Linked DNA regions of Homo sapiens: all the other regions are linked to region 1. Evidence: fine-mapped expression QTL. A gene starts in region 1. Each other region holds a variant in brackets. All regions are shown on one strand. Distances are between the middles of the regions. Region 1 holds the start of CASC3 (CASC3 exon junction complex subunit). Region 2 overlaps RARA (retinoic acid receptor alpha). Region 3 overlaps CASC3 (CASC3 exon junction complex subunit).

Region 1 (8,308 bases):
CTTTGGGAGGCCGAGGTGGGTGGATCACGACGTCAAGAGATGGAGACCATCCTGGCCAACATGGTGGAACCCCGTCTCTACTAAAAATACAAAAATTAGCTGAGCGTGGTGGTGCACACCTGTAGTCCCAGCTACTCGGGAGGCTGAGGCAGGAGAAATCACTTGAACCAGGCGGGGCGGAGGCTGCAGTGAGCCGAGATTGCACCACCGCACTCCAGCCTGGCAACGGAATGAGACTCCGTCTTAAAAAACAAAACAAAACAAAACAAAAAAAATGGGGGGCACGGTGGCTCATGCCTGTAATCCCAGCACCTTGGGAGGCCGAGGTGGGTGGGTCACCTGAGGTCAGGAGTTCGAGACCAGCTTGACCAACATGGTGAAACCCCATCTCTACTAAAAACACAAAAATTAGGCGGGCGTGGTGGCATGCGCCTATAATCCCAGCTACTCGGGAGGCTGAGGCAGGAGAATCGCTTGAACCCAGGAGGCAGAGGTTGCAGTGAGCTGAGATCGAGCCATTGCACTCCAGCCTGGGTAACAGAGCAATACTCCATCTCAATAAAAAAAAAAAAAACTTAATTTTTTTTTTTTTTTGGCTGGGTATGGTGGCTCATGCTTGTAATCTCAGCACTTCAGGAGGTCAAGGCAGGAGGACTGGTTGAACCCAGCAGTTTGAGGTTGCAGTGAGCTGTGACCCCACAACTGCACTCCAGCCTGGGTGACTGGGCAACAGAGTGAGACCCTGCCTCTTTTTTAAAAAAAAAAAAAAAAAAAAAAGAGGGCTGGGCACAGTGGCTCACACCCGTAATCCACCTGTAATCCCGGTACTTTGGGAAGCTGAGGCGGACGGATCACCTGAGTTCACGAGTTCATGACCAGCCTGGCCAACATGGTAAAACCCCGTCTCTACTACAAATACAAAAATTAGCTGGGTGTGGTGGTGTGCACCTGTAATCCCAGCTACTTGGGAAGCTGAGACAGGAGAATCGCTTGAACCCGGGAGGTGGAGGTTGCAGCGAGCTAAGATCATGCCACTGCACTCTTGCCTGGGTTACAGAGCAAGACTCCATCTCAAGCAAAAAAAAAAAAAGAAAAAGAAAGTTTTTAATTTTTGTTGAGTACACAGTAGGTATATATTTATGTAGTACATGAGTTTTGTTTTTGTTTTTGTTTTTTGAGACAGAGTTTCCCTCTTGTTGCCCAGGATGAAGTGCAATGGCACAATCTTGGCTCACTGCAACCTCCACCTCCTGGGTTCAAGTGATTCTCCTGCCTCAGCCTCCTGAGTCGCTGGGATTACAGGCACCTGCCACCACGCCTACTTAATTTTTCTTATTTTCAGTAGAGACTGAAAATGGGTTTCGCCATGTTGGCCAGGCTAGTCTCGAACTCCTGACCGCAGGTGATTCACCCGCCTCGGCCTCCCAAAGTGCTGGGATTACAGGTGTGAGCCACCAAGCCCGGCCCATGAGATATTTTTATATAGATATACAATGTGTAATAATCATGTAAGGGTAAATGGGGTATGGATCGCCTCAAGCATTTATCCTTTGTTACAAACAATTCAATTACGTTCTTTTATTAATATATATATATACTTTTTTTTTGAGATGGAGTCTTGCCCTGTCACCAGGCTGGAGTGCAGTGGCTTGATTTCGGCTCACTGCAACCTCTGCCTCCCGGATTCAAGCGATTCTCCTGCCTCAGCCTCCTGAGTAGCTGGGACTACAGGGGCGTGCAAGCACGCCCAGCTAATTTTTGTATTTTTAGTAGAGACGAGATTTCACCATGTTGGCCAGGATGGTCTCAATCTCTTGACCTTGTTATCCACCCACCTCAGCCTCCCGAAGTGCTGGGATTACAGGCATGAGCCACTGTGCCCAGCCAATAGTTATTTTTAAATGTACAATAAGTTACTGGTTGACTGTAGTCACCATGTTGCAAATATGAAATTCTAGATCTTAGTCATTTTTATTTTTTAAATTTTCTGAGACAAGAGTCTTGCTCTGTTGCCCAGGCTGGAGTACAGTGGTGTGATTATGGCTCACTGCCACCTCCACCTCCCAGGCTCAAGGGATTCTCCTGCCTCAGCCACTTGAGTAGCTGGAATTACAGGCATGCGGGACCATGAGCTGCTAATTTTTGTATTTTTAGTAGAGATGGAGTTTTGCCATGTTGGCCAGGCTGGTCTTGACCTCCTAGCCTCAAGTGACTGGCCCACCTTGGCCTCCCACAGTGCTGGGATTACAGGTGTGAGCCATCGCGCTGGGTTTAGATCTTATTCATTCTAATTACTATTCTTTTTGTACCCCTACAGCCTTTCTTTTATTTATTTATTTTTTTTTTTTTGAGACAGAGTCTCACTCTGTCACCCAGGTAGCAGTGCAGTGGCATGATTTCAGCTCACTGCCACCTCCATCTCCTGGGATCAAACGATTTTCGTGTCTCAGCCTCCCAAGTAGCTGCGATTACAGGCATGCATCACCACACCAAGCTAATTTTTGTATTTTTTAGTAGAGATGGGTTTTTTTTTTTGAGACGGAGTCTTGCTCTGTCACCCAGGCTGGAGTGCAGTGGCACAATCTCAGCTCACTGCAAGCTCCGCCTCCCGGATTCACACCATTTTCCTGCCTCAGCCTCCCGAGTAGCTGGGACTACAGGCGCCCGCCACCACGCCCAGCTAATTTATTATTATTTTTTTTTGTATTTTTAGTAGGGACGGGGTTTCACCATGTTAGCCAGGACGGTTTCGATCTCCTGACCTCGTGATCCGCCCGCCTGGGCCTCACAAAGTGCTGGGATTATAGGCGTGAGCCACCGCGCCGGGCCAGAGATGGAGTTTCACCATTTTGGCCACGTTGGTCTCAAACTCCTGGCCTCAAGTGATCCGTCTGCCTCAGCCTTCCAAAGTGCTGGGATTACAGGCGTGAGCCACTGCTCCCGGCCCCTGTGGGCTTTCTTGACTGTTGTTCTCTCTGCCTAGAACACATCTTACCCAGCCAACTGTTTAATCTTTCCCGACTGCCTAAGATGGATTCAGTACCCAGCTGTAACACCCTACTTAGCCCTATCCCAGTGCTATCCCCTATCAGCAAGTGGTACAATTGCTTGAATGTTTGTCTGACTTCCTTATTGAGTTGTAAGATCTCTAAAGATAGGAATTTTGTTATAGTGTTCACTATTCCATCCTCAAGGGCTTAACAGATTCTAAAATGTAGTAACAGTTCTAAAAATGTATAGACAAAATCTTTGATCCACCATCCAATTCCCCCTATATATAATCCCATTACCAGAACTCAGGAGTCCACTCAACAACCCAGGAAACAAACACTTACTCTGATGGCATCTCTAGTAGTTTATCCAAAAGACAGGAAACTTTCTCCTAAAAACAGAAAAATCCCCACCTATAAAATGATGGATGCTCTTGGCACAAAACATTCCGAATCCTACCCTTTCAAAGTCTTCAGATAGATTTGGAAAAAAATAACCAATTGGCTGGCTTCTCAACCTACACTGCATAAAACAAACTGTCAAACATCTTTCAGAGGACTTCAAGATATCCTCACTCTCTTATTTAGAACCTCATATTCTTCAGACAGGAAGAGAAGCCAACTAACAGTATAACACCTGTGGCTTGAGACGGCGTGCCCCAAGTTTTCCCTAGGTCTAAAGTGAACAAGACCTTCTGTAACACTTTTTCAGAAGCATAAATGAAGAATACACAAGAGGATAAACACGGAGGTCATGGTACGTTTGCAACGAAGGTGTGTACACGTTTTTAAAAAGCATTTCTGATCTATACCATAGGAAAAAACCTGTCATACTCACTTCCGAGTCTTCTGCACTTTCATAATCCGAGAGAACAGCTGAAATAAAACAGAAATATGTGGAAAAAAAGAAACCCAGAAACATTTTTTGGCTGCTTATTACAGGTCAGACTAAGAGTCTCATTTAATTCTGACATCAACCTACAACGTGGATAAAATTATAGTCCCCACTTACAAAAGGAGAAACAGGCTCAGAGGGTAACTTGCTGAAGACTATACTGCTAAAGCCTATGCTCTTAACCACTATGTTACAAAAAGGCACTCTGTGGCCCTAAATCCGTGACAGTGTGTGAGAATGTCGATGTTGGAAATAGATGACCTGAGTTTATGTTAAAAAAAACTCTTGTCCTAATGGGGTAAAAGATGCTACTCACCATCACCTTCAATGCCATCTTCACTCTCCTGAAAGAAAGCAGAAGACATGGGTTAGTTCTGTGATTTCCAGAGGTGGGGAGCCCAATAAAGAAATGTGGGTGAAAAGCTGAAGATTCAGCACAAAATGGTTGGAGAGGGAGACAGAGATAGGTAAATCTTTATCAAGTAGTAGCCAAGGCAGGTCTGGTCTCCTTCCCTCCAGCCCCGACTTCTGAATAAAACATCCGCTTTCCATCTCCAGCGGCTCTACCATCCTCCCAGAAACCCCCAATCCTTCTTCTTCCCTTGGAACTCCGGATGCAAACTCGCATTGGGATAACTCCCCTTTTCTCTCAAAAACAAAAAAAAGTCCCAGTATCTACTATCAACTCACAGACTACCTAGCATCACCTACACCCCGCCCCCGGCCGGCTCGCCGCCCGGTCCCCACCCCGCCCCGCCTGCGCGCACTCACACACTCCGACTCCTCAGCACTCTTGGCGCCCCCGCTCTCCACCCGCCGCAGATGAAGGGCCCCGGTTCGGCCTCCGCGCTGTGAAGGCAGAGAGCCGCTGCCGCCGCCTCCGGCGCTACCGCTGCAGCTCCCGCCTCCCCGCAACGGGGAGCCGCCGCTGTCGGAGCCCGAAGCACCAGATTCCTCGTCCTCGGTGTCTTGCGAAGCGCGCTGCCGCCGCCGGTCCGCCATCTTACGGAGAACGGCCACCACCGGCGAGGTACTTACGCACCGCGCCCGTCGCAGAGGCTGCTGGGAGGCTGGATAGCTAGTCCCGGCGTGCTACGCGTGCGGCGCTCGGCCATCCCGCTGTGTGTGTGTGTGTGTGTGTGTGTGTGTGTGTGTGTGTGTGTGTGTGTGTGTGTGTTGGGGTGTGTGTGTGTGTGTTGGGGTGTGTGTGTGTGTGTGTGTGTGTGTGTGTGTTGGGGGAGGGGCGGGGCACTGGGCGGGGCCTAGGCCTGCGGCACGTTTGCGGCCGACCCGGATTACGTCTATCGGTGATGTAAGGGGGCGTGGCGCGGCTCCTGACTTCCCTTGGGCAGGCCTAGGGCGAGGGGAATTGAGACTTCAGCAGCCTCCCGGGTTCCTGGCCCGGCCATCTTGGGCTTCCCGAGTGGAAGGAGTCAACCTGTCACAGCTTCACTGCAACACTAGGGCTGTTTCATGGTTTTCTGTTTCCATTTCTCACTTCTACCTACGTTTGAAGCAGGTCAATTTACTGCATTCCTTTGCTTGGTAAAATCACGAATCAAGGTAAATCTTAAAAGCTGTAGTGCTGCGTCAGATTTGCTGCACCAGCCTTGTTTAAGATAACGGGCGAAGGAGAAACCAGTTGTCTGCAGTGAAGCCAGAGGACTTCTTGTTGCAGCGTTTTCTCTGTGTTCTCATTTCCTCTTCACGTTTCTTCCCACCCCAGCCATCACCTGTCCCAAAGTGCAGGCTGGTATGATGCCAGTATTACCGGTTTTGTTTTGGCTTTTTCGAGGCAGGGTCTCACTCTGTTGCCCAGGCTGGAGTGCAGTAGCGCGGCTCACTGCAGCCTTGACCTCCCAGGCACAGGTGACCTCCTTGCCTTAGCTTCCTTAGTAGTTGGGACAACGGGCACACACTACCACACCCGGCTAATTTTTCTGTTTTTTGTAGAGATGGGGTCTCGCTCTTGCCCAGGCTTGTCTCCTGGCTGGGATCAAGCGATCCTTTCGTCTCAGCCTCCCAAAGTGCTGGGACTACAGGCATGAGCTACTGCCCTTGTCAGGATTTTAGAACCTATTTAAAAATAAATGGTCAGTAGAAACAGATGTTGATTCAAAATCCTGACATTATTTCCTTCTTAAGGTTTATGGAAATTATTTCATTTTGGCAAGGCATTGGCCACCATTGAAAAGAATCAGTGTGTTTTCTTTGGACCATTATAAGGATATACAAAGTGCATGAGCTAAGTTTTTAGTGCACCTACAGGAGTGCACGTTAATAATGTATGTTATCAAACAAAGGCCACCATGGCATAGAATTCTTCCCTGAGTAAAATATTTTTTTTTTTTTTGAGAGGGAGTCTCACTCTGTCTGTCGCCCAGGCTGGGGTGCAGTGGGGTGATCTCGGCCCACTGAAAGCTCCGTCTCCCGGGTTCACGCCATTCTCCTGCCTCAGCCTCCCGAGTAGCTGGGACTACAGGTGTCTGCCGCCAGGCCCGACTAACTTTTTATGTTTTTAGTAGAGATGAGGTTTCACCGTGTTAGCCAGGATGGTCTCGATCTCCTGACCTCGTGATCCGCCGTTCTTGGCCTCCCAAAGTGCTGGGATTACAGGCGTGAGCCACCGCGCCCGGCCTTTCCTGAGTAAAATTTTTATAAATGACATGGTTAAGGATCCTGATGTTTATCAAATTTATAGATAACATGAAACTGGAAGTAATTATGAATGCCTTCAGAGATGAAAGGAAAATTCAAGGCCGGGCGCGGTGGCTCACGCCTGTAATCCTAGCACTTTGGGAGGCCGAGGCGGGCAGATCACGAGGTCAGGAGATCAAGACCATCCTGGCTAACACGGTGAAACCCCGTCTCTACTAAAAATAAAAAAAAATAGACGGGCGTGGTGGCAGGCGCCTGTAGTCCCAGCTATTCGGGAGGCTGAGGCAGAATGGCGTGAACCCGGTAGGCGGAGCTTGCAGTGAGCCGAGATCGCGCCACTGCACTCCAGCCTGGGAGACAAAGAGATTCTGTTTCAAAAAAAAGAAAAAAAGAAAATTCAAACAATCTCAGCTAATTAGACAAGTGGCCAAACGTGACAACTTATAAGTCCAGCTCCAAAAGCCAACTGCCTGAGTTCAAAATGGAGGATAATATGATTTAATAAGTGTTAAAGAAAAAGAACCTGGAGGATCTTATCGATCACAGACTAAATTGGTGCAAATAAGGCTGCCAAGTTTAGTGTCTAAATAAGGAAAGTGATAGTCTGCCACTTTGTCCTTCAGTTGTTTAGTCTGGGTCCAGTTTTTTTTTTTTTTTTTGAGGGGGACGGAGTCTCGCTCTGTCGCCCAGGCTGGAGTGGAGTGGTGCGATCTGGGCTCACTGCAACCTCCGCCTTTCAGGTTCAAGCGATTCTCCTGCCTCAGCCTCCTGTGTAGCTGGGATTACAGGCGCGCACCACCACGCCCAGCTAATTTTTGTATTTTTAGTAGAGACGGGGTTTCACCATGTTGGTCAGGCTGCTCTTGAACTCCTGACCTCGTGATCCACCCGCCTTGGCCTCCCAAAGTGCTGGGATTACAGGCCTGAGCCACCGCGCCGGGCCTGGAGCCCACAGCAATCTTTAACTAGGGACTATGAAGAAAGGAGGGATTGGTCTTTTTTTCATCATCCTAGAAGGCAAAGCAAAAACCAGTGAGTTTAAGTTACAAGAAGTTAGATTTTTTGTCAACAAGCAAGAATTTTCAAACACTTAGGGGGAAAAATGTATGTAGAAAAAGTGTTGAAGCACAGCCTGGAATTTGCTTGTCTGGAGTGTTATCAAGGGTAAATCACATATCGGGGTCACACTAGATGACCTCTAATGTCTTTCCAGCTATAAGATTTTGTTAACTTACGAAGTATCCTATAATCTCGTTTCTAAAATTGCTAATTATACTTTTTTTTTTTTGGAGTTGGAGTCTCCCTCTATCACCCAGGCTGGAGTGCAATGGCATGATCTCGGCTCACTGCAACCTCTGCCTCCTGGGTTCAAGCAATTCTCCTGCCTCAGCCTCCCGAGTAGCTGGGATTACAGGTGCCTGTCACCAAGCCTGGCTAATTTATTTTATTTTTAGTAGAGACAGGGTTTCACCGTGTTGGCCAAGCTGGTTTCGAACTTCTGACCTCAGGTGATCTACCCACCTCAGTCTCCCAAAGTGGCTGGGATTACAAATGTGAGCCAACACGCCCGACCCTTTTTTTTTGTTGGGGGTGGGTGGGATGGAGTCTCGCTGTCACCCAGGCTGAAGTGCAGCAGCTTGATCTTGGCTTACCACAACTTCCACTTCCCAGGTTCAAGAGATTTTCCTGCCTCAGCCTCCCAAGTAACTGGGATAACAGGTGCATGCCACCACATCTGGATAATTTTTGTATTTTTAGTAGATGG
Region 2 (8,308 bases), 220 kb before region 1:
GTACACCCTGCGTGAGGCCCACTTGTGCACACAGACACACGTAACCCTCCCGGGTGAGCTGTGTGCACATGCACACAGAAACATATGCCCCTTGAGAGCTGTGTACTCACATCCCTGTGAGCTTTGTGTGAGTGCATTGTGCACACACGCACATGTCCATTCTGTGTGGGCTGCGTGTGCACACCTGTACACAGAAACATCCTTGTGCGCTATGTGTGCATGTGTACATCCGGCGTGACCTCTGTGTGTGCACGCGTGTGTGTGTGATCTCTGATATGCACTGCGGGGGTGGCCAGGATCCGATGCCAGCTGCAGCCACAATGGCTCCCTCCCTACCACCCTAACCCAGCCCACCTGCCAGGGCATCACAGGAGGTCTGTCCCCCCCTCCCAAGAGACCCCGCCCAGGGAGGGAAGAGGAGGAGAGGCTCCCTTTCCCCGGGCAGGCCTCAATCCTCGGGAGCCTATGAGCAACATCCTCACAGTACCCCTTGTGGCGAGGCGGGGGCTGGGCGCTTTCATGGAGGTGGGGTGGGGGTGGGCGGCGGGCCAGAGGGCAACCCAGACGTGTGTTATGCCTCCCTCCTCCATCTTCATCCTCCCCGCCGCTACTGCTCCCCCAGGCTATAAACGGGAAAGTCCCTTCTGTCCTCAGGAGAAAGCTCCCAAAACACACGCGCTCCCGGCCCTGCCTTCCCTTCCAACCACCCCCTTCTTCCTACTTGCGGGCATTCGAAGAGCTGCTGCCTATGCAGCGCATCCCCCTCCTGTGTCTCCCCTCCCGTCTGCCCTCCCCCTTCACCAGCCAGTGGGCTGCTCTCCATAAGATCACCCAGGACCTAAGCGAGAAATCCAGGGGCCGTCATCGGACTGCACCTTGCGGGCCTCACCGCATCCTGCCTACCAGGCTGTGCGTTCCCCGCCATCACCCCACCCTGTCCTTCTGAGTTCCTGGCGTCTTTCTCAGCTCTCCTGTGCCCCACACAGCAGTGGGAGGTGTTTCTGAATAGCGCCCCCCACTTAAACCCGGGACTGAGGGCAGCACCCCTGCCCTCAGGGTGAGTCAAGCGCCTTCACAAAGCTTCCTTCTGAAGCCCTGCCCCTGTCAGGCCTTCGACTCCACAGCACCGGCTTCCAGGTGTGCTCAGAACCATAGGGAATTTTCTCTTCTAACAAGCACCAGACCTGCTTGCTGCCAAGCGTTTGAACGTGCTGTTCCTTTGCCCAGAGTAGCCGCTGCTTCCTGCAGCCTTCTCCTCCCCTAGCTAATGCCCACCCACCTATTGTTGTCACTTGGGAAGAAAACAGACACCTTCAAGGAGAGGGCTCCCCTGGTAGCCCCCACCCCAAGACAGAGCTGGATGCCCCTCGCTTCCGTAGGGAAAGCACTTCTCCTGCAGGATGGCATTGCTCTCTCCCCTTCCATGGCACGTAGTATGTGCTCAGTAAATATGTGTTGGATGAGAAACTGAAGGTGTCCCCAGGCCTACACCACTGCCATGCCCGAACACTATCCATGCTATGGTGGGCACCATCTCTCTGATGACAGTTCTGTGTCCACAACCCAGACCCCTCCACACAAACCCAGATGGGGCTGTGCCGCTGTTTTCCAGATGTATTCATTCAACAAATATTTGTAGGGTACCTACTGTGTGTCAGAAGATGTTCAAGATCAGCATCATCCGATGGAAATAGCATATGAGCCATGTATGTAGTTTCAAGTTTTTCATTAGCCACATTAAAAAAGTAAAAGGAAACAAATGAAATTAATTTTAGTCACGTATTTTATTTAACCTAGCACACCCAAAGTATTTTCATCTTAATGCCTCATTGATATTAAAAAGTATTAAGGAGATAGTTTACATTCTTTTTTTCATACTAAGTCTTCCAAATCTGCACCCACCTAGCCAATTCTTTCCTCTAGAGATTTAGCAATGAGCCTCGGCTACAGCGGGAGACTCCGTCTCAAAATAAATAAAACTAAATTAAAAAGAGATTTAGCTGAGAGAGGCCACCTCTTCCAGGAAGGCTTCTGAGCCCTGCCCCAAGCGTGATTCAGTGCCTCTGCCCTGCACTCCCGTAGGCCTGTCAAGCCTGTTGCAGCTCTGCCCAGGTGGCATCCCGGTCACCTTCCTCTGGCTCAGTCTCTCTGCGGAGGATGGGCCCTGGCTCAGTGCAAAGCACATCAGCCCTGGAGGACCACACTCCACAGCAGTGGATCTCACATGGGGGTGATTTTGCCCCCCAGGGGGGCGTTTAGCAGTGTCTGGAGACATATTTGGTTGTTACAGCTGGGGTGGGAGAGAAGCACCACTAGGGTTTCATGGGCGGAAGGTTGGAGATGTTGCTTAGCATCCTGCAATGCACAGGACAGCCCCCACAACCTGGCTCAGATCTTCACATTGGTGCTGAAGCTGAGCAACTCTGCTCGACAGCAGTGAACTGTGGACCACTGAGGACAACCCCAAGACTAGAGGTTCCAAACAGCAAAGGCACTACCCCAAGGGGCATTTTGTAAATGTGGGGGCCACTGCTTTGTTTTCACAATGATGGGGGACCCCATTGGCATTTAGTGGGCAAGGGCTATGGACGTCAAGATATCCTCTTGAAATAAAAACCTGCTTGGCACAACTTTTTTGTTTTTATTTTTATTCTTTGAGACAGGGTCTCCATCTGTTGCCCAGACTAGAGTGCAGTGGTGTTATCACGGCTCACTGCAGCCTCAACCTCCAGGGATCCAGCAACTCTCCCACCTGAGC[C/A]CCCCCCCCAAGTAGCTGACACCACAGATGCACACTACAAGGCTAGGCTAATTTTTGTATTTTTTTTTGTAGAGGCAGGGTTTCACCATGTTGCCCAGGCTGGTCTTGAACTCCTGGACTCAAGTGATCCGTCAGCCTCTGCCTCCCAAAGTTCTGAGATTACAGGCTTGCGCCACTGCGCCCAGCCTCAGGCACAACTTTAGAATGTCCAACTGGACATTGGCATAAGTGAAAACCCTGGGCCCAAACCCTGTTTTACATGTAAAACATTAAGGGTTTTGAGGCCAGGCACGGTGGCTCACGCCTGTAATCCCAGCACTTTGGGAGGCCGAGGCGGGCGGATCATGAGGTCAGGAGATCGAGACCATCCTGGCCAACACAGTGAAACCCCGTCTCTACTAAAAATACAAAAATTAGCCGGGTGTGGCGACGTGTGCCAGTAGTCCCAGCTGCTGGGGAGGCTGAGGCAGGAGAATGGCAATGGCGTGAACCCGGGAGGCGGAGCTTGCAGTGAGCCGAGATTGCGCCACTGCCCTCCAGCCTGGGTGACACAGCAAGACTCTGTCTCAAAAAATAAAAGAAAAGAAAAGATAAAGAAAAAACCATTAAGGGTTTTGTTTGGGCTTTTTTTGCATTGTTTTATTATAGATCAAACATGCCGATTTTTATTCCAACATCCACCCATGCTCTTTAATGTTCCTGGGCTTCTTGTACAGAATGGCTTCCAACCTTCTTTTAAATCCAAATGTATTCATTCAAAAGAGGGGCAAGCATTAATCTATTGAAACACATAGCACTGCCCCTCAATTTATCCTTTATAATACGGTTGTGACAACATATTGATCTGTGAAATCACGTGTACAGGTACAGTATGTTAGATTTCATTTCAGACTCGTAAAGATGTTAGAAAATATTTACTGGAGGAAAAGCGCCTCGGTCCCCGCGGTTGCCTCCAGCCTAGGGCGGCCGGTGAGTCAAGCAAGGCGCTGCCGCCACCTGGTGGTTAATGTAGAAATGGCAGGCAGCCTCTAGCAGAAGGAACCCTTTGCCTTACTCCCTCCCGGCTAGGCCCCCACAGCTTCCATCCCAATCCTGTGTTCTTGTTAAGTTTCTTTCTTCTTTTTCTTTCTTTCTTTCCTTTCTTTCTTCTTTCTTTTTTCTTTTCTTTCTTTCTTTCTTTCCTTTCTGTCCTTTCTTTCCTTCCCTTTCTTTCTCTTTCGTCCTTTCCCTTTCCTTTCTCCTTTCTTTCCTTCCTTCCTTCTTTCTTTTTCTTTCTTTCTTTCTTATTTGAGACGGAGTCCTGCTCTGTCGCCCAGGCTGGAGTGCAATGGCACGATCTCGGCTCACTGCAAGCTCCAGCTCCCAGGTTCAAGCAATTCTCTTGCCTCAGCCTCCCTAATAGCTGGGATTACAGGCGCCCGCCACCACGCCCAGCTAACTTTTTTGTATTTTTAGTAGAGACGGGGTTTCACCATGTTGGCCAGGCTGGTTTTGAACTCCTGACCTCAAGTGATCCGCCCACCTCAGCCTCCCAAAGTGCTGGAATTACAGGCATGAGCCACTGCGCCAGGCCTCTTGTTAGGTTTCTATGAGTCCCTGACCCCAGCTCCTGTGCCATCTGTCATTCCTGCCGTGATGGTGAAGGCTTCCCAAGGACCAGAAATGTCTAGGGGTGGCTCCGGCTTCCTCCCTCAGACTGGGGGTTCCCTGAAGGTGGGGGCAGCTTTCCTCCTCTTCTCTCCCACTCCCAGACTGGGGCTCCTTGACATGGGCAGTGTGGATCCCCAGACTGAGGGCTTCCCAAGGGGCAGGACTTTCTCCTTCTCAGCATCTCCAAAGACCCCAGCACAAGGTAAGCCTCAGAAGGCAGCTTGGAAGGGTGCCCTGGCCAGCCCCTTGGCCCCAGTGCTCATTCCTGGCCATCACAGGCCCAGAGCACATGACGAAACCCATCCCAAGCCCCCAGACCAGACGCCAAGAGGAGGGGGTGGAGGCAGCAAGGCTGGAGGCATGTGTAGAATAAATAGAACTTTATTCTTTATCCAGTAGATCTCAGTGGAAAGCCCAACAGTAACAGGTGCACCCACGGGCTCCAGGGGAAGGGGCCCCAACCCCTGGTGAAGGAGGTCGGGGCAGAGCCAGCTCCCCCAGCTGGGGGTGCAGGGGTGAGGGGAGACCCCCCTGTAGGCCCGTCCTGCGGGGTAAGGAGGGGGCACGGGGGTGGGACAGGTTGGGGGTGGGGGGCAGGCCAGGGAAATGGAGGAACTCGGGCCAAGTGTGTGTCGGCCCATCTACTGTCCAGTGTGTGTGTGTTTGTGTGTGTGCGCACGCGCATGTGTGTGGTGTCTGGGGGCCCTATGGGGGTGCTGGTGGCTGAGGCCGGGGGTGGGGGCAGCTCGGGCCCCTGGCCAGCCCCTTCACAGTGGGGGCTGGGGAGCCTAGATGATGTGGGCCCTGACGGGAGGCAGCTCTGCCGAGGAGCCAGGTCTGGGAAAACTCTGTCCCGGGGCCCTTGCTCTGCCCTGCTCCATGCCTCATGGTGGGTGCAGGCAAGTGCCAAGGCCAGGAGCCTGTCCTTTCAGGGCTGCCCCACACCGTCCACACCCAGTGGTCAGGCAGAGGGAGAAAGGGGCTGGCGGCTTCTCCAGTGGGAGGGAGGGGAAGGCAGGCCTTGGAAAGTTAGTACTTCACAGTTTTAAAGAGAAAACTGAGGAGGAAAAGGCTGAGGAGGAGAACTGGGGGGCACAGGGACATGAAAGGAGAGTGGGGGCCCCTTCCGAGCCACTCCCTCCCCCGGACCCACCCCCTCCAGCTCTGGATCCAGCTCCCCCCAATACACAGCACAAATTCCTTCAGTATAAATGTGCTTAAAATGAAAATTCTTATTAAAAAAATCAAAACAAAAAAATTAAAATAAAAACAAAACCAGCGAGAATTAATACCTGGGGTTGGTATGGCAGGGTATGTACAGGGGGAACCCCCCGCCCCTGTCCCACCCCCTCTGTCACCAACCGAGGCAGGGGGGAGGTTGAGGTTCCCCAGCTGGGGAGCAATGGCTTGTGAGTTCTGAGGATGGGGGAGCCAAGTCCTGGCGTTTGCTGGTGATGAAGATGTGGTGAGCTGGGCAGAGGGGTGTCTTGATGAACACGAGGCCCCCAGGACCCATCCTGAGACCCAGGACCAGGGGCCTCACTCAGTTCCTGGCCTCGGCCTCTGACGTCAGCCCAGGCTGTGGGAGCAGGCAGTCCACTGAGGGCCCAGGCCTCTGTCCAAGGAGTCGCTGCCTCCTCCCTCCCCGTCCCCCAGGGAAGGTCCCCAGTACTGCCCGGGAGGGCAGGTGGGGGCAGGGCTGGTGCGGGGTCACATGGTCGGTAGAAAGGCAGAGAAAAGCCGGGGCGGAGGGCGAGGGCTGTGTCCATGTGGCGTGGGCGGTCACGGGGAGTGGGTGGCCGGGCTGCTTCTGTTGGAGCTGGGGCTGAGGCTGGGGCTACAGCTGCCTGGCGGGGGGGCCAGGCCACCCCCGTCCCGCCCCCCACCCCCCGGCTGTCCGCTCAGAGTGTCCAGGCCCTCTGAGTTCTCCAACATTTCCTGGATGAGAGGCGGCATGGAGCCCGGGATCTCCATCTTCAGCGTGATCACCCGCTCAGCCCCTGCAGGAAAGGAGGGGGCAGAGGTCAGCACGCTGGGCCAGCCCTCCCACCCCCAGCCCCAGCAAGCCTGGCTCGAGGTGGGAAGATCAATACTGCTGATATTAGCATCTTTCTTGGGATTCAGTTCTTTGACACGAGCCAGCTCTCTTAAGCCCCCAGGTCCAGAGGCTGGTGGCAATGGGGCAAAGTGGTCCCGAACTCCGGCTCCAGGGCCAGACTGCCGGCCTGGGCTAGACGCCAAGCCCTTCCTTCCCCTGTGCTGTGTGCTAGGGATCATCCCGACCCCTCTGTAAACACGAATGTTATCCCCGCCCTCGGAAGGGAAACTGTAGCTAGGAGCTGTTGAGTGACCCACACAAGGACACACACCCACGTGTCTGGTTCCAGAGCCACGATCTGAACTACCACACAAAGGTGACACAGGCGGGCCACCTCGGCAAAGTGGAGTCACTAGGGGACCTCAGCCTAGACACAGATGGGGACAGGTGTCGTATTGTCCTGGCACAAAGACATGGGGTGCTGGCTTGGATGTGGGGGCCTGGGCCAGGTGTCGGGGGCCGGTACCCCTCCAGGTCTGTGAGCCTCACCCTTGGCGCTGATGCTTCGCAGGTCAGTAATCTTCATTAGCATCTTGGGGAACATGTGGGGGCGGCTGGGCCTCCGCTTCCGCACGTAGACCTTTAGCGCCTCCAGCAGCGGCTCCTGCAGCATGTCCACCCGGTCCGGCTGCTCCAGGTCCTGGCGGTCTGAGGAAGCAGAACCACCCCCTGAGCAGCTGGGAACACAGCTGCACCCCCAGCCTCGGCCACCGGGGGGCGTGCCTGCCCAGGCCATGGAGGAGGGCAGCTCGCAGGCGCCTCCCCACACAGGGCAGGGCATGGGGTCTCTGCTGCCGCAGGGTACAGAGGCCCTTAAAAGGGAGCAACGGGAGCTGAGGGTGAGGGGGTGCCCCAAACCCTCCCTGAGCCCAGTTAGTGGGATGGGACCCCAAATGGGCAGTGCCATCCTCAAGCAGGGAGAGGGTTCCCAGGCAGGCTCCCACTCCCCCCTGTTATTCTGGAAACCAGATGAAATGGCAGAAATCACAACAATAAAATAGCAACTAACAAGCACTGGAGCTCGCTCTGGGCACCTGCACAGTATCTGTTACCACCGTAATCCTCCCATCAACTTCATGAGCTAGAGACCGTTACCGCCCCCACTGTACAGAAACGGAGGCCCAGAGAAGTTCAGCAACCTGCTCAGGGTCATGCATCGGCCAGGAGGTGACCCTGGTTGGTCCGACCCTCAAACCCTCACTCTTAACCTCCCTAGAAGGGGTGTTGCCCAGAAATCGGGAACAGGAGTCCAGGCCCCACATGGCCCCCTTGCTGTGTAGTTGCAGACCAGACCCTGCCCTCTAGAGATACCTAACAGAGGTGGCCTGAAAGAGCTCCCTGGAAGAGACTCCAGGGCTGCACCCCCGTCCCAGCCCAGCCCCCAGACCCAGGCCCCCTGCCCACCTCCGCAGATGAGGCAGATGGCGCTGAGCAGCCCCGTCTCCGCATCATCCATCTCCAGGGGCAGCAGCTGGTTGGCGAAGGCAAAGACCAGGTCGGTGAGGGGGCCGAAGCCAGCGTTGTGCATCTGGGTCCGGTTCAGGGTCAGCCCGTCCGAGAAGGTCATGGTGTCCTGCTCGGGCGTGTACCGCGTGCAGATCCGCAGGATCTGGGTGCAGAGGATGCTTGGGTTCAGGGACTGAACCCGAACCCACTCTGAGCACTCGGCACCAGCACTCCGCACCAGCACTCCCGGAGGACCACCTGGCAGGTGGCCGGAGCAATGCTGTCTGATAGAATTTTCTACAATGATGGAAAGGTTCTACGTCTGCACCATCCATACCTCAGCCACCAGCCACATG
Region 3 (8,308 bases), 27 kb before region 1:
GGAAAAATCCTTGCAACTAAACACAGTGGACCAACAGAGACAACTCTCACAGTGTCTTAAGGTCTGGGAATCTGGGCATGCTGCCCACAGGCTTGAGGAGACATCTTCAGGTTTAAGGCAAAGGGAACAGCCTACAAAAGGCACAACCACCAGCTACCCCTAGAAGAATCTCTTAGTTATTTCCTCCTTGGGGGTTACAGATTAAGTGCCTCTCCCCACTCTCCATCCCACACCTGTGACTCAGAGTGATTAGGCCAGCTGCTAGATGGAAGGAATAAAAACAGTGACATTACCGGGGAGAGACACAGCCACCATCTTTGCCCTCAGGTTCTGTAGAAGGACAGGGACAGTGGCCAGGTTACCCCTGGCAGACGTATGTACTGCAGTAATAGGAATCTCTTCCACAGAGGCAGCAGAGAAGTGGTTTAGTGCCATGGATAGGGAGGAAAGATAGGAGCCCTTGCCCAGAAGGTGACTGGCTTCCTTAGGCCTTAAGCCCAGGAGTTTTTATATTCTGTCTGCAAGGACAAAAATAGAATTCGGGGAAAATAAGGTAGTAACATCTAAAACACTTGTAGCAGGAAAGACGTGGAGAAGAGCAATTGCAAAGGACAGGGTAGACTGCTTGCTGGATAATATTTGCCTTTAAAGAGATGCATTGGTCCACAGCAACTGGAAAAGGGGTGTAGCAAGAAGAATGGAAAGAAGAGAAGCAAGGCCCTCTAATTCCACTTACCTCAAAAGACTGAGCCCTGAGGACTATGTGAATACACACCCCTAAAGGCAAAGGCTCTCACTCCACCATCCCTTTCTCACAAAAGCATCTGGTGTGCCATCTCTCCCCACAGTAGGGTATTGGCCCTCAGCAGAGAACAGAAGCCCATCATAGTACAGGTATTGATGGATGCTCAGACTCCTAAAAACCTAAGTCAAAGAGAAGGGCTCCTACCCACCTACTCTGAGCTTTTCTGCACAATGGGACCCTCTGTGCAGACAGCCATGCTTCCACAGGGTTAGAGTTAAGGGAATACAAGTATACAAGAGGATAACAAATGCCAACTAAAAGTGAAAGGCCAGGTCTTTTTAGACTTGGTGGGGAAGGCTGGCTGATACATTCTCCATTATCTGGGATGCACGGAAGAGTCAAAAGGGAATCCAGAGGGGCTAGAAAACCAGAAGACTAGACTTGTTTCATTTAAAGGCAGGGAGAGAGAGCAAGAAACAGAAACAAAGAGAAAAAATTAAAATAATATTAAGGATAAGAAGCCAGGCTTTAAAAATGAACATCTTAGAAAACAAAACAAACAGGAAGGAGCTTCCTTGGGAACAGAAGACACTTCAATTTCCCAGAAGTGAAGAACAGCAGAAGACATGGGCTTCTGTATCTAGACTCAGAAGCTTGGGGCTGTCTGGCTCTCTCTGCTCCCCCGAACACAGCCAACTCAAGTGAAGAGTGAAGATGGGACGAGGTCCACTTGTTTCTCCCTCTCTCTAGAGCCTGTCCTCAGAGGAAGGCAGGGGTCCTCCTCTTTCAGCTGTTTGCTGGTAGGAGCCACACCCTATATCTTTGAAGCCCTTCTGGTAGTAGATAGCCAGCTGTATTTCTCTTCTGAGTTCTCACCTCTGCTGCTCTGACAGGGGTTGGAAAAAGGGAAGAACCACCAAAGTGTTAGTGGGCCTTCTGGGCATTCACAAGCTGTTTTCAAAAAGCCACACTTCTAAATAATGTGTTTTAAGTAATGTCCTTAAACAAAAGCAACAAAACCCCCAGTCCTTCTCCTCTATGATCTTTAGAACTGGTTTTTTCTGCTATAACATCTCAAATTTAGATTTCCCTTTTCCTTGACTGCCTTCCTGTATTTTTTCCTTGTAGCTTCCCAATTGAAAACTGTCATGTTAACAATCGTTTCTACTTCAACCCTGCCCAATACACTTGCCAAACAAACAAACTGGCAAATTTCAGGACTCCTTTAAGCCTCCTGAGATATCCCATGATTATTATAACTTAAAGCATTAATCAGAGGCTGGGTGGGGTGGCTCACACCTGTAATCCCAACACTTTGGGAGGCCAAGGCAGGTGGATCACCTGAGGTCAGGAGTTCAAGACCAGCCTGGCCAATATGGTGAAACCCCATTCCCACTAAAAATACAAAAATTAGCCAGGTGTGGTGGTGCGTGCCTGTAATCCTAGCTACTTAGGAGGCTGAGGCAAGAGAATCGCTTGAACTCAGGAGATGGAGGTTGCAGTGAGCCGAGATTGCACCACTGCACTCCAGCCTGGATAACAGACTGAGACGCCGTCTCAAAAAAAAAAAAAAAAAAAAAAAAAAAAAAAGCATTAATTAAGTGATTTTTGTTTATTAAGCAAGTGTGAGCATTAGTTTTAACAATATTCACAGTAAGTTGTGCACTTACTTTTATATGATGTTAAGATTTAAAATATTCAGAAACTTGTATTAACTGGAACCCCTGCTTACAACCTGAAATAACAAAGTTGGAATTTGTTATCAGGTCATAACAAAAAGACTGTTTTCCAGAGAAACACACCCAGAAAATGAGGGAAATCCTCTGGGGAGAAGGAAAGCCCACTGACGGAGCATGTGCATTAAGTATAGGAAGGAACTCTCATACCTCAGGTGGAGGGGGCTTGATGGTGACTGGCTGGGGAGTCCTCCGGGGTGGGGAGGGCTTTGGCTGCACCTGCTGCTGGGCGGGGTTATAGTAGGTCACTCCTCCATATACCTGTGATGGGGCCTGGGACCCCACAAGCCAGGAGAAGAAAAAGTTAGGAATGAATTCATCCAACCTATGATGAACAGGAAATATTATTCAGCCATAAGAGAATTGGGGAATTTATAATTTTAAAAATATCTAATCTGCCCACCCTTCAAAATAAAGTGACTATTCATTTTTGCCTTAATTCTTCATTATTATGCTCTGGTTTTTATTTCTTCAAAGTACTGCCCAGCTTTCTCTAATTCCTACCATCAGCTGACAAATGGAAAAGGCTGAGTTCAGTAGCGACACTACAGATACTTGATTATGTCAACGTGGTGGAAGTTAAGCAGGACAGAGGTAGGGGTGATAAGGAGTAGAATACAGCTTCTTTATGCAATAGAGTAAAAACCAGGTATTGCCACCTATGATGTACCACAACACAGGAAAGAAACACCATTAAAGAAACTGAACGCTGGGTGCGGTGGCTTATGCCTGTAATCCCAGCACTTTCGGAGGCCGAGGCAGGTGGATCGGTTGAGGTCAGGAGTTTGAGACCAGCTTGGCCAACATGGTGAAACGCCATCTCTACTAGAAATACAAAAACTAGCCGGGCATGGTGGCAGGCACTGTAATCCCAGCTACTCGGGAGGCTGAGGCAGAAGAATCGCTTGAACCCAAGAGGTGGAGGTTACAGTGAACCGAGATCACGCCACTGCACTCCAAGCCTGGGCAACGGAGAAAAAAACTGAAAAGAATAAAGATGATGGGCATTACATAAGCTGCATTTCCAGCTCCTGACCACTAAGAGGCGTCTTGGTGTCACA[T/C]ACAAATCAGTGGCACTGAAAATGTTCTCTCAAATTCCTTTAGCATTCTCCCCATACCACATTCCTGTCTGAATTAAAGAATGTGTATCTAGAAAAACATGATCATTAGCCATCTCACCTGTGTATTAGGATACAGATGAGGCGGTGGTGGGGGAGGCAGTGCCCCTGGAGCATAAGGGTAACTGGGATTACCAAAGTTCATGACGCCTGGAGCAGAAAAGTAAGTAGGAGCAAGCAACTGCTGAGGTGGTGGCTGTCCTGGAGACATGGACACTGGTGGGGGATAGAGGCCTGGATTGGGCAGAGGAGCTGGTGTCTGGTGGGGATGTAAACCTGGATAAGGAGAAGAAAAAAACTGAAAAATAAAGTAACATCATTTTCACAGGATGGCCCGGCTGGACTGCTCAGTATAATCAGGCTCAGAATGGAAGTCCTCAGGATGGACACAAGAGGAACTTGTTGCCCAAGCAGCCAGGATGGCCAGACTCCCAGGCTAGCAGCACAAAGCTCAGGAGGATGGGTTTTGTGGCACTCCCAACATATATCCTCAGGTACTGGAAGCATATAAGCAGAGACACAAAGCTTACCTGGGTGGGGAAGGTTCATTCCTGGCTGCACAAGCATGCCCTGTGGAGGCAGCGGGGCAGGGCTGTCACCATGGGTATAGATTGGTCCCTGGAACTGCACTGTAAGATATCACATTGGGACTCTCATAAACCCTTACTCTTCACATGGACAAGTCTCCTTGTTCCCCAAGCCCTTTAAAAGATGTTCTCAATATTCCATGCGAAGAAAACAGCAACCAGACAATGTTTGATAACCACTATAAGAGGTCAGAAGAGAAATTCAGGAGCCAGGAGCCTGGTATCTTACTTCACTTCACCCTGCCAAGAAAAGTACCCCAACAGTAAGAAAAAACTCACGTGGATCATAGTAATGTCCCTCCATGATACTGATATGCACTGGAGGGGCGGGGGGCTCTGGCACAGGTCTTTGCCGCTGGGATGAATAGCGTTTGGCTCGACCACCCTGGACACCCTGAGACAAAGAAAGAGGCCTAAACAATAAGAATTCTAGAGGGCTCTCATATCAAGTCCTACCTTCCTTTAGGTGTTGAAAAACACTTGGTACATGGCAGGTATTTAATGGATATTTGCAAAGTGAGCTGAAAAATAATGAAAAGATATCAAGATTTGAACCTAAACCTTCTACCTTACATTTAGGAGATCCAAATTAAAAGAAACATGCATAATCAATGGAAAAACTGACTTTATCTTGGCCGGGCGTGGTGGCTCATGCCTGTAATCCCAATACTTTGGGAGGCCAGGGTGGGTGGATCATGAGGTCAGGAGTCAGGACCAGCCTGGCCAACATGGTGAAACCCTGTCTTTACTAAAAATACAAAAATTAGCTGGGCATGATGGCACGTGCCTGTAATGCCAGCTACTCGGGAGGCTGAGGCAGAATTGCTTGAACTGGGACCCAGGAGGCAGAGCTTGCAGTGAGCCGTGATCCCGTCACTGCACTCTAGCCTGGGCAACAGAGCGAGACTCTGTCTCAAAAAAAAAGAAAGAAAGAAAAGAAAAAAAAAAAAGACCTTATCTTGGTTTAAACAATGAACAAGCTGTGTAACAGGCAGCTCCCTCCCCCATCTACCCCTTTCCCCTTCTGTACCATTTCTTCCATCCGGTTAAACTGAGGTGGAGGTCCTGCTCCCATGTGTATATGGTTGGGCATACCTGTAATACACCAAAAAAGTCACTTCTGCAGATCAGACATACGTGAGTGGGACTCAAAGATACTATCAAGAGACAGGTTTAAGTGTCAACATAAGGAATGCCTTTTTTCTTTTAACTAATAAAATTCTCTATAAACTATCTCTGCTTTCTGTCAACACCAGCATTTAGAAATTTGTCCCCACTGTCTGCCATCTTAATATAGCAATAAAGCCCTTGAAAATGAAAAATAAAATGACTTCAGTGAAGAAAATCAAATTCAAATTTTTTCCTATCAAATTGTTCCCTGCATAGAATCCCTGAGAGATTATAATTAGCACATTACATTATCCAACATATTGAAAAATCTCAGCCCAAGAGTTTCTGAGCAACAGCTGGACAAGGGAGGGATGCTTTGTAAATCTACTTGATTATATCCATTCACAGGGGTCTGGGTTGGAAGTTTGAAAGGAGATTCTCCTCTGGCTAAAATGACTCAAGACAAAAAGGAATGTTCTAGAGATTGTCCTCCAATAGTAAGAAGGGTGCTGCAACTCCAATTGAGGAGTTCCAATATTTAAGTTAGATTTCAGACTAAGGGAAGATCCTTTGATCTATCTGGCTGGAGAAAAACAAACCACAATAGGCAAAATGGGTAATAGGTAGGTCTTACTCTCTAAAACTATGCTGCCCAATATGATATCCACTAACCAAATGTGGACACTTAAGTTTCAATTAATTAAAAGTTCAATTCCGGCTGGATGCAGTGGCTCATGCTTATAAGCCCAGCACTCTGGGTGGCAGAGGTAAGACTGCTTGAGCCCAGGAGTTCAAGACCAGCCTGGAAAACACAGTGAGACCCCCCGTCTTTTCAAAAAATAAAAAAAATCAGCCAGGTGTAATGATGTGTGCTTATGATCTTAGCTACTGAGGAGGCTGAGATGGGAGGATTGCTTGAGCCCTGGAGGCGGAGGTTGCAGTGAGCCAAGGTCACGCTACTGCACTCCAGACTCTAGCCTGGGTGACAAAGTGGGACCCATCTAAAAAAAAAAAAAAACAAAAAAAAAAACTATATCTATGTAAACACAACAACAACAAAAACACAAAAGTACAATCATTACACAAAGTTCTATTGGGCAATCTGTCTCTAGAAGATTAAGGAAATAAGGGAGGCTTGCCTTTCAAATATATTAGAGAAGATCTTGATCAAAATTCAACTGAATAAATTTCTGCCTTCAAATATTTAACCATTAGTTCAAATAATAACGTTGTCTTCTTCTACTTTTTGTGGAAAATGATCCTGTACTCAGGAGGCTCAATGATGACCGGGCAGGTGCAGTGTCTTCCATCTGTAATCCCAGCGCTTTAGGAGGATCTCTTGAGCCCAGGAGTTCAAGATTAGCCTGGGCAATATAGCAAGACCCATCACTACAAAAAATTTTTTAAAAATTAGCTGGGGCTGGCACAGTGGCTCACGCCTGTAATCCCAGCACTCTGGGAGGCCAAGATGGGTCGATCACTTAAGGTCAGGAGTTCGAGACCAGCCTGGCCAACATAATGAAACCCCATCTCTATGAAAAATACAAAAATTAGGTGTGGGCCAGGCACGGTGGCTCATGCCTGTAATCCCAGCACTCTGGGAGGCCAAGGTGGGCGGATCACGAGGTCAGGAGATCGAGACCATCCTGGCTAACACGGTGAAACCGTCTCTACTAAAAATACAAAAAAAAAAACTAGCCAGTCGCGGTGGTGGGCGCCTGTAGTCCCAGCTATTCAGGAGGCTGAGGCAGGAGAATGGCGTGAACCCAGGAGGCAGAGCTTGCAGTGAGCCGAGATCACACCACTGCACTCCAGCCTGGGCAACAGTGAGACTCTGTCTCAAAAAAAAAAAAAAAAAATTAGCCAGGTGTGGTGGTGAGAGCCTGTAATCCCAGCTACTCAGGAGGCTGAGGCAGGAGAATTGTTTGAGCCCTGGACGCAGAGGTTGTAGTGAGCCAAGATCGTGCCACTGCACTCCAGCCTGGGCAACAGAGCAAGTCTCTGTCACAAAAAAAAAAAAAAAAAAAAAAAGGCCAGGCACGGTGGCTGTGGCTCACACCTGTAATCCCGGCACTTTGGGAAGCCAAGGTGGGAGGATCACAAGGTCAAGAGATCAAGACCATCCTGGCCAACATGGTGAAACCCGGTCTCTACTAAAAATACAAAAATTAGCCCAGCGTGGTAGTGCACGCCTATACTCCCAGCTACTCGGGAGGCTGAGGCAGGAGAATCACTTGAACCCGGAGGTGGACATTACAGTGAGCCGAGATCGTGCCACTGCATCTAGCTTAGGCAACAGAGCAAGACTCCATCTCAAAACAAATAAATAAATAAAAATACAAAAAAAAAAATTAGCTGGGCGTGGTGGTGTGCGCCTGTAACCCCAGCTACTCAGGAGGCTGAGGCAGGAGAATCACTTGAACCTGGGAGGCGAAGGTTGCAGTGAGCCAAAATCGCGCCACTGCACTCCAGCCTGGGCAAAAGAGTGAGACTCTGTCTCAAAAAAAAAGAAGTAGACATTTGTCAGACACCACCTTCCTGAGACAGAAGTCCCATGCCCCTAAACCTGATGATGCAAAGGGGAAAAAGCTAGCCACCAATCCTATGATACCTACCTCGAAGTTCCCGTGGTTGCAGGAAAGAAGGCTGCCCCGGACTCCAATTCTGTTCTGCTATATTTAGTTGTGCCACATCTTGCTCAAGTCCACTTGTACTAGAATCCACCGGAGCTTCCCAGGTCCCAGTCTTAGTAGGTGGAGTTGGGGTGGTTTCTGGGACTGGAGGTGCTGGAATCAGTCCTTCAGGAGGAGGGGGCACCTCCTCTGCAAGCTTGACTGCATCTCCAACTTTGGTTCGAGTTCTTCTTGCCCGGGAATAGGATTTCTTCTCAATGGGCCTATCAGGGGGTGGTGGTGCAGCATCAGGAGCAGCAGCTGGTGGCTCTGAGGCTGCCTCTTCCTTCTCAGGACTGCCAAGCACTGGAGCATCTGCTTCTGGAGATGGATCCCTCAC

What was found. PIP is the estimated chance that this variant, and not a neighbour inherited with it, causes the effect.
Region 2: its variant is fine-mapped to the expression of CASC3 in whole blood (TOPMed, PIP above 0.99).
Region 3: its variant is fine-mapped to the expression of CASC3 in whole blood (INTERVAL, PIP 0.98).

What each region holds. Positions count from the first base shown.
Region 1 is chr17:40,137,128-40,145,435 of GRCh38, reverse strand. CASC3 (CASC3 exon junction complex subunit) reads right to left here and starts at 4,899. Exons shown (of 14, transcript NM_007359.5): 1 at 4,657-4,899; 2 at 4,202-4,229; 3 at 3,829-3,866. The coding sequence starts at 4,887. RefSeq lists enhancers at 4,583-4,882, 4,348-5,288.
Region 2 is chr17:40,354,109-40,362,416 of GRCh38, reverse strand. RARA (retinoic acid receptor alpha) reads right to left here. Exons shown (of 9, transcript NM_000964.4): 7 at 7,911-8,115; 8 at 6,996-7,154; 9 at 4,774-6,408. The coding sequence ends at 6,191. GJD3 (gap junction protein delta 3) reads left to right here. Exons shown (of 1, transcript NM_152219.4): 1 at 1-1,765. Among named protein-coding and RNA genes, the nearest start is that of GJD3-AS1, 4.6 kb to the left of the region's middle. RefSeq lists a silencer at 7,255-7,324. The variant C/A (reference allele first, on the strand shown) is at 2,759.
Region 3 is chr17:40,163,770-40,172,077 of GRCh38, reverse strand. It overlaps CASC3 (CASC3 exon junction complex subunit), which reads right to left. Exons shown (of 14, transcript NM_007359.5): 7 at 7,912-8,308; 8 at 5,217-5,281; 9 at 4,466-4,580; 10 at 4,130-4,228; 11 at 3,661-3,875; 12 at 2,632-2,754; 13 at 2,416-2,480; 14 at 1-1,631. The coding sequence ends at 2,457. Among named protein-coding and RNA genes, the nearest start is that of MIR6866, 6.0 kb to the right of the region's middle. RefSeq lists an enhancer at 3,455-4,014. The variant T/C (reference allele first, on the strand shown) is at 3,543.